Homo sapiens: one gene and its partner. The protein of the gene in region 2 purifies or fractionates together with the protein of the main gene of each other region. This does not show direct contact. Each region holds a gene or a part of one and is shown on either strand. Other genes may lie near its edges.

Region 1 (5,091 bases), on a different chromosome or scaffold from region 2:
ACCCCCAACTGTGGTCCGGACCATAAGATTTATAACAGGTCAACACTAAAGAAGTCACACCAGCAGAAACTACCTTTGGGACTTTCGCCTGGGTCCTGTTGAGAACTCAAACATTTCTACATAAGACAAATAATTCTGAAATGCCAGTGAGAATTTAATAATACTGGAAGTTCTCATTGGCAATTTAGCAACTTTTCCGTCTCTGGGCTAAATAACATTCTAACAAGCATTCCTCTTTAGGTTGAGAACTGTTTAAGCGCAAACTCTTGACATAAACTCTAGCTTGCCTTTAATGGCAGTTGTGAGCAAGGCTTGGCGTAGTTACTGGGTTGTTTTTTTTTAGACAAAGTCTCGCTCACATAGTTACTCTTTAAGAGCCACTTTCATTAAAGCATTAGAGGTTATTTTCTAAAAGGAGTACTGATACAGTATTATTATTTTACAGCTCAAACTATTCGACTTTTCACACATGGGACTCCTATAGTAATAAATCACAACCAAATAAAGTGGAAAAAATACATACACACGTAATTTTTCTTAAACTTGCAAATTCAACAAATGAAACAAAAGATAGACACTGAACTTTTTCTGAAAAGTGCTTTCATAAGCCAGTCCAAAGACAAACTCCTACTATTTTGATTACCCAAGGAAAGGGAAGGTAAGATATGGGGAACAAAAACATGCATTTTTCTATTTATATCTGAACTCGGAAATCATCTCCTTAAGACGATTTTTCTAATTACGAAAAACTTTAGTAGCTTTTTAGACCACCTATTCTAAAATACCAAATAACAGAGAAAGTAAAACTCAATTCCACGTGTTTTTCTGCTCCTTTCAAAAGTGGAAAGAGGAGACCTCTAGAGCTTTAGGTACAAACAAAAGAAATATTTACAATAAAGAATCCAGACCACATGGTTTGGTGACACCTACAAAGATGGTTAAAAGTCACAGAAGTACAGGAATGACAGAGCTGTCCAATAAGTGATCACAGCAGGGTTCCTGACAACAGACTGAGTGCTTATTTATACAAGTGGAACTTATTTTCACATACATTTAAGGAATGTGGGCTAGTATTGAGACAATTTACTGCTGGTGGAAATGTAATTAAAGACTGTGCTAACCAAATAAACTCTAATTTGTTTTTAGTGTGCCACCAAATTATCTGCAAAACAAAATCCTAATTAGGTCAGCTACTTTTAAGACAATGTTTAAATAGGTATCGAACCCCTTTTGGTTCAACTCAACTTCTGATCAAGGGCAACACAGATTTTTTTTCTAAACATCTAAATCCAGGAAAAAAGAAAAAAAGTACTGCACACTAGCATGATCACAATAGACAACTTGACATTGAAAAACTATCGAATACAAGTTAGATGCCGTGAATAATCTAAGCATATCTAAATACACTCCAGGAAGCACTGTATTCATTTTCTCTTTCTCATCCCTCTATTATTCCTAAGTGTTCACCTCCAGTCATTTACATGTTCAGTTCCATATGTTGTCAATAGAGCCATTCACTCATGAATAAGGCAGCATGACCTCCACAAGAGGCAATTTAACAGAATTAGCCACAACTAATTGAAAGTCTCCCTGCTTTCGGTTAAAGACCTTATCTCCTCTTCCAATTGCAATAAAAACTACTAAATAAAACGTCCCAAGAAATTAAATATCAATCCAATACTAATTCTACTTTATTAAACTAAGGCTTATTAAAAACACAAGGAATATACTTTCTGATGGCCAACAATTCTACATTCACAAAAGTTATTTAGATTAGCACAATAATTTTAAAATATAAATTCTTAAACACCTGACCAAACCTCCTACCACATTAGGGCATTGGAATAGTTCACTAGAATTGTTTTAAAAACTTAAAATTTTCATTGCAATTCTGCTAAGTCAAAATATAAGATTACGTATGAAGTGCACTTTTATTTTAAACAGAACAACTACTTTAAAAAATACAAATTTTGATTGTTTACTTTTTACAGCACTCCAATTTTAAAACTGGGACTGAGGAAGAAAAGAGATGACATTTGGAAAAGATCAGCATTTCCAACTAAATTACATTTTCTTCCTTGTTCTTCACGCAGTTGGCAGTGATTTCAGGTTTTCAGACTTCGCAGCTAAAAATCCAAAAACTTGCATAAGAGCTCCCTGCGCTCTCCCCTAAACCGTCTGGGCGTTCTGAGGAGCTACAGAAATCACGCCCTTGATTCTGGATAATCGAGTTCCGCCCTTTCCATAGCTACCGACCAGTCTTTACAATCTGGTTGAGGAGTGGGAACTTACGGTCTGCTAATGTGAAAAAGCAAGCAGAGGGAGAACAACAGAAGTACGTCCACCATAACTTGGAGAATGACCGAATTCTGTTGAGGGGGCTTCCCAAATGAAAAGCCTGACTTCAGTTACTGGGTGGGAACAGGAAAAGGAGTCTGACGCAGCTAGAAACTAAAACTGAACCAGACTCATAACTCAGCGAGAACTGCAAACTCCTGATGTGTGCAGGTTGCCGCTTATCTCCCCTGGGCCTGGCAGGAGCAAGCATTTGAACCCCTTGGCTAGCTTAGGGCGCAGGACTTCATCCCCAATCTCTGGCGTCGTTACTGGCCCCCAACCCTGGTCTACCTGCAGCCAGTTAGGACGCGCCAAGAGCCCACCTGCGCCGCCCGCAAAGCACGTGGGAGGGAAACTGAGGCCCGGACAGTTCTTTTTCCACGCCCACGGAGCGCCGATCGCGGCCTGGGCCAGAAGGAGCTATACGGCAAAAAGGGGACTGCACGCCGAACCCCATTCCCCGCCGGCTCCTGTTTTCTCGAATCTCCAGCGGCCCGGGCCCCCTCCCCCCGCGGGAAGAATACTTACAGCCGAGCGACCCAGGACGGGAGTGGCTCGGGAAGACGCGCTAGCCGCTTACGACTGCAGTCCAGCAGGTCCCCGAGGCAGCGGCAGGTAGTGGGGCATGGGCGCTCGGCGGCTACCCCAGAGGGCTGCCCGAGTTCCCCGCGACCGCCGCTGTCTGACCGGCCAGCGCGCCCCAGCACCGCGCACAGCAGCAGCCCCAACCCCGCGGCGCGCGCACGGAGGCTCGGCGCGCTCATCGCGGTCCAGCGGCCTAGGTCTCTACCCGAAGCTCCCAGCCGGCGCGCGCTCGGGGCCCGGCACAAACTTCCAGCCGAGGGTGCACGCCCGCCCTCGCGGTCGCGTGCGCGCTCCTCCCTCGCGCTGCCCGGTCAATTCCTTCTTTTACTCCCGGCGGCGAAGCCCTTTCATGCCCCCAAACAGCAGGAGGGAAACCGAAAAGAACTGCCAACTGCAACAGAGTTGCAGCTTGAGCAGCGTCGGCTCGCCGAAGCCCCTTCTTGTCTGCAAAAGAAACTTTTTCGCCTCCACCCCGCGGCACTGCGCCAAGTCCCCGCGCGGCGGAGTAGCAAGGCGGGCGGGTAGAGGCCGACGCGCGCCCATTGGCCGACTCGGCTGCGGGCGTCCCCGTGGCCACGTGACAATAACACCGCTCCAGCCGGGGGCCTACGCGCGGGAGAAAGTGGAGCTGAGATTGTAGGAAATTCAGAGTTATATTTTCCAGCCTCTCCAGCCAGAAGTCTCCACTACGTCGTGGGAAACATATATCAAATGGAGTTGAAAGGCAAAAGGAAGTGAGCAAATACTGGGCTAGTTCTCGGAGTTGGAGGTATTTAGGAGAACTTCAGGGAAGTAAAGTTTAATTAGCAGTGTTTTCAGGAAACTTTTCAATTCCAAATTAAAGACACTGATAAATTATCCTACCATCCACAGATGAAAGAGTGGTTTCAATGAAAACAGCTCTTTCAACGTTAATGCTGGTGGGTGTTCCCCCATACATCGGCTTCAAAAGTAAAAACAATAATAAAACGTAAAACTCGTGGTTTTGGAAAGTGTATATTGAATTACAAATAGCCAGCCTTCGTGCACTGGATAAAGCTGGGCGGGGTGGGGGATGGGAGATGACCTTCTAATAGACCTCGATGGCAATCATAGATTCCTGGTAATAGTAATAATAAAAGTAGTCACAGTGACATTTCAAAGTAAAATGAAAACTAAGACCTTGGAGGAAAAAATTAGTATATGCACCTTGGTCCACTTGCGCTTTGAGTAATGACACATGTTGATTGAGAATGCTACCAGGGTAAAAGTACCTCCCGGCCTCCTCAGCTGGGGGAGTGGATGTTTGGGGCTGGATTCAGGCTACAGGACTTCCCAGTGAAGTTTGTTCCTTAACTTACAGGTGATCAGCGCCACAAGATGTTGAAACTAATGGAGACCGCAGAGATCATGTGCTAAGGGGCCTTCCTCCTCTGGGTAAGGAAATAGACCTAGAGAACGTAACTAATGTGTTTGTTGCAAAAAAAATAAAAATAAAAGCAAGACAGAAAACATGAACAAACCAAAAAACAAACCCTGGAAGCTTAAAGTAAGTTTTCACTTCTATACATTGTTTATTGCATGCTGTCTGCCCAAGCTTGTCTGTCCTTGGAGTTGCGTAAACTGCTCATGATTGAGGAGTGGAGATAGCTTGTGGAGTTGAGACTTTAACCCTGACTCTAAGGCCCATTGATTTTTCACTGTAGCAAATCACTCCCACTTACGGGGGAAGGAAAAGACTCACTTTGAAGTTAACACACCCTATTTTAGATATGGTATCCCATTTTCTTATTTCCAGCTACCATTAACAACAACGCTACTACCTTTTTGGATGATGTATAATTATAATTAGAAAATATCTATAATGATGGCACCTTGGTTTTGAATTTATGATTTTGTCTGCTTGGGAGTAGACAAAACACACTACAGTCATAGTAAGGATTTTCCAGCTCAGTATCCCCCATCTATTTTTATTTATTTTTTTTATTTTTTTATTTTTGAGATGGAGACACTCCAGTCTGTCACCCAGGCTGGAGTGGGGTGCAGTGATGCGATGTCGGCTCGCTGCAACCTCTACCCCCTGGGTTCAAGCAATTATCCTGCTTCAGCCTCCCAAGTAGCTGGGATTACAGGTGCCCACCACCACACCCGGCTAATTTTTTTGTATTTTTAGTGGAGACAGGGTTTCAC
Region 2 (4,373 bases):
ACCTGAAAAATCACTGCCAGTAAGGAGGAGGTTAGAACACTTCACATTTTAGTTCCACCAAACTTGTTCAACCACCTGAAGGACCCACAAGCTTAAAATACCCCAAACATAACTGCCTTTCCTCACCCAATCTCCATGAGGTAGGTCCCTGCTCCTGATTCCAATATGCATGGCCCCACAGGCTGCAACCCTGTTAGCATCTTGGCTTTGCACCTGAAAACCAGGCAACCAATAAAGCCCAAGTGAATTAATAGCCAAGAGGAAGCCTACAACAGGAGTGTAACTCTTGGCTCTGGTAGCTCCCACTGGGTGTCAACGTCAGGCCTTAAATCTCAGCTACCATATTATTGGTGCTACCACACAAGAGCTTACAGCAGCAAAAAGGGGACCTGATACTATCCCATTTTGCAGATGAATAAAGTGAGTCTTAAGGAGTAAGAGTGACTCACCAAAGACACAAAACCACTGAGCACTTGGAAATAAGTCACATCAGACTCCAGAGCCTTGGTACACCAAGGCCACTCTTCTAGTCCAGTGATTAATTCCAGCAAATAAATTTTCCAATTCCATTAAATAAAGATTGTTTGTTGTTTCTGTTGGTTTTCTCACCACTGGGATTTGCCTGGTCACTATGTCTCAGAAGGCTCCAGACACTTTCCACAAGGCACTGTGATGACTAAATTAGCCCTTCTCAGGGACATAATCATCAGTTCCTAGATTTAACCCATTAAACAGAGAAAATGGAACAACATTTTGCCATTCAATGGCAATTGTAGGCAACAACCACGGAAATAAAATATGAGCAAGAATGTCGACAATTATGCCAGAGTGCTGAGCATACCAGCAGCCACTTTTCCATTAGCCTGCCACCCTTGGAAACCATCAAATGTCCCCTTCCTGTGCTCCAGTAAATGTAAATTTTGCTTGAGTAAAATCTTGTCCTTGACTTCTTTTCTGGAGAAGTGTTACTCTTTTCTGGAGTGTTACTCTCAGTCCCTCATCTAAAGGGGAGAACATAGGAAACGAGTGGACTTCAGGGCCATCAGAACTGGGGGGAACCCTGATTCTGGCTCTCTGTAGCTCTGCTCTTAAGTTTTCTTATTTCTAAAAGGAGGATCTGCCTCAGGGGCTGGTAATTACATCTCTTATTTAGAATGAATAAACTGGAAATTCTAGCTTTCAGCGCCACCTCTGAGAGCTTCATTGGGGTGTGGCAGGAAGTCTGGATTGGTGCTAGTGGGCTGATGTTGGGGAGTGTGCAAGCCCACAAGTGCCTGGCTCCTGGCCCCTCAGCTGGGATTCAACTCAGGACAGGCAGCCACGTGTGCCTCTGTCCAGAGGCCACCCTGTCTCCCTGAGTGACTCCCTCCCAAAACCAATAACCGTCTTTGTTCCTACACTTTTTATCTTGCCGGATGGTTGTGTATATTAAATGAGAGGAAGCCATAGAGTTGTCAGGGGTCAACCCCAGCAGCTTGTGGGCTGGTTTGTAGCCTGCAAGGGTATTTTGTTTGCCCATATAGACTTTTCAGCAGCTGTCAACTTTAAAAATTGGAACAGTTCACACAAGCTAGATTTCTGGGCTCTCTTGGAAAAAGTCACAAGATTCCACAACCCAGGGTTTTCATTCCCGTGAGATGACAGTCGGCTGGAGATAAGAGGCAGCTGTCCCCTTTAATAGTTGGCCCATAAGCGCTGGAATTGGGGTGTTCAGCCTCTCAAATACAGTAGATGGCCAATAAAGGACGGTTATCAGTACTTATTACTTATCAATAACTTGAGTACATGGCATTTAAGTGCAGGGACTGGGGACTTGTCACTGTCTTCCCATTGTGACTAGCTTGGGTCATTTGGTACAACCTTTGTACAGACTGGAAGATTGGTAATTGGCATCAACACTCAAAGCCCCTGTTGGGTGCCAGTCACTGTTCTGAGCACTTCACACATGTTATCTAGATCTTCACAACTGTGAGCTAGATTACTATTACTTTATTTGATCGTTACAACTGTGAGCTAGATTACTATCATCGTGATGCTTTTGCCGATGGGAGAACTAAGGCACAGCCCCAAATCACCAAGCCAGCAGAGAGTCAGGATTGAAACCCAGGTCCTGACCATTCCTCCACATTGCAGGATCCTCCCAAGTGGCGATGGAGGTGTGGCCTGCCCAGCTTCCCTAGGGCCTGGCAGCCTCTGAAAGCCCTGCCCCCCAGCCCAGCACAACTTACGGTCAAGGCCGTTGATGTAGCGCATGGTGACTTCACAGTGGCCCCACACGGCACTCACCACCGGGTACAGCTTCTTGCCCTTGAGACCTCGGAAGGCCACGCCCAGGTACTGGCCATCCACGATGAAGCTGAGTGTGCCCTCATCCATGTCCAGCACCACGAGCAGCGAGTCGGGCAGCGCAAAGGCCTCGTCGGGCCCCAGAAAGGCCGGGTAGGCCACGCCGGGCTGGTTCTTGCCGTCGTGGTAGAGGCGGCTGCGGCCCAGGTCCCAGCCCCACGACTCGGCGTCACTGCCTACCAGCGCCGTGTAGCCCACGGAGTGCAGGGGAGCACGGGCCGTGGCCACACCAACTACAGCGTGGGTGCCGCGCTGCCGAGCCGGCCAGTTGATCTGCCAGGCGTGCAGGCCGCGGGCGTGGCCCACCTTGCCGCGGATGCCGTCGGTGCTCTGGGCCACGGGGTGCCGGTGGAAGGTGAGCCGGTCGTCGTCCTTGACGAAGACGTTGAGCGAGCGGTCCTCGGGGTTCCACGCGTGCCGCAGCTGCACAGCCAGCCCCGCCGCTGGCATGTCCAACAGCTGGTCCAGCCGCGCCGGCCGCCCGGGCTCTGCACCCCGCAGCTCCCGCTTGGCCGGCCGCAGCGCCGGCTCTCGCACCTCCACTGACTTGAGGCTCCCCGAGAGCTTCTGGCCCATGCTTCACTGCGGGGAGGAGGCCGCTGCAGGCCACCGCTACCTCGTGGGAGCCTCCACTCCCCGTAGCCAGGAATGGGCCACGGGGCTGGGAACCAGGCTTCCGGACGGTAGACCTCCACAGCCTCTACCGGGCTGCGGCAGGGGCCCAAGCTCCTGGAAGGAAGCAAAGGGCACGGGTTATAGCAGCAGCATCAGCAGCCAGTTGCCAATCCCTTCATTTATGTCCATGCCTTGGCTGAGCCCTTTGCATGCACAATAATAGTAATAATTCGTACACTCATATCTGGCACTAATCTAGCACCTGCCATATGCCAGTGTTCTAAATTATTTATGTTTATTAGTTTGTTTAATCCTTAACATCTCCCTATAAGAGATATACATTATTATTCACAATTTACAGATGAGAACACTGAAGTCAGAGAGAGGATAAGCGATTAGCCGAAGTCCCACTGCAAATAAGTGACTGAGCCAAGATTCAAACCAAGGTCATCTGGCTTCAGGGTCTGTGTTCCGGACCTAGAACAATCATAGGGAGTCTGATTTTAGAAATAAGGCGTGAGCCCAGAGCAGTTGTGACTTGCTCAAGGTCAGAGCCTGGATGAGAACCCAGGTGCTTTTGATCCCAGGGGACAAGCCTTGTGCCAAGGCTGGGGGGCACACAGCTGCTCAAGACACAGGGCTGTAGGGTGTGGCCCATTGGTTCCCAACCCTGGAGTCCTGGGGAGCCTAAATAACCTCCTAAAATGTAGCCAGGCTTGAGCGGCAAGACACAGAACAAGGTGCAGCAGGGTCACCAGGGACATGGACATCAGGCAGCGTGGGAAGATGGGGTGAGAGCTCCATGGGAAGGTGAATGGAGGTCAATAGAGGTGAGGAGGAAGGATAAGGGAGCCGGTGTCCAGGCTCTGGAGCCAGACAGAACTGCGTCCAAATCCCTCTCTCCATCTCCTACTGTGGGTCCACAGGAAAGCCTCCTAGCCTCTTGGATACTCCAGATTTCTTGCCAGTAAAAAACATGAGGATAAAACACCTCCCTCTGGTGATGGGGGAACTTGAGAGACCATAATATAAAGGGTCCTGGAACTCTGCCGACAGGTTTTCCTCTCTGGCTCTGTTCTCTGGGCATCCCATGTGGATCCCCTCCCTTTGGATGGGTGAGCTCTTTGTTCGATCAGGTAAATACCATTAACAGCACTGACCCCAGACTGCCTTCCCTGAGACAGGATCCTGGTTTTCATGGAGAAGGAATTGGCCACCATCACTAGGAAACCAGACAGAACCCAAGGAGCTCGGACTACTTGGACGGGCCCTGGGTATGGAGAGAGATGGAGAGCCAAGCCCTGTCCAGAGCAGAGGCGTGTGCCCTCCCCTCCCTGGCCTGAGAGCTGCTGGGCCTAGAACAACTTCTCCTGAGCCAGATGAGGAGATGGATGGGTGTTTTTCATGCCCTG

What was found.
Region 1: the proteins of SPSB4 (region 2) and LRIG3 purify together in Homo sapiens (co-immunoprecipitation; 2 studies listed by BioGRID and IntAct, with this or other methods). This does not show direct contact.

What each region holds. Positions count from the first base shown.
Region 1 is NC_000012.12:58,917,135-58,922,225, forward strand, and holds the start of LRIG3 (leucine-rich repeats and immunoglobulin-like domains protein 3 isoform 2 precursor), read right to left. Parts: upstream 3,371-5,091; 5' UTR 3,102-3,370; coding exon 2,866-3,101; intron 2,372-2,865; exon of another isoform or gene 2,349-2,371; coding exon of another isoform or gene 2,293-2,348; intron 1-2,292. UniProt on the Homo sapiens protein: May play a role in craniofacial and inner ear morphogenesis during embryonic development. May act within the otic vesicle epithelium to control formation of the lateral semicircular canal in the inner ear, possibly by restricting the expression of NTN1.
Region 2 is NC_000003.12:141,064,654-141,069,026, reverse strand, and holds part of SPSB4 (SPRY domain-containing SOCS box protein 4), read right to left. Parts: intron 3,076-4,373; 5' UTR 2,923-3,075; coding exon 2,229-2,922; intron 1-2,228. UniProt on the Homo sapiens protein: Substrate recognition component of a SCF-like ECS (Elongin BC-CUL2/5-SOCS-box protein) E3 ubiquitin-protein ligase complex which mediates the ubiquitination and subsequent proteasomal degradation of target proteins.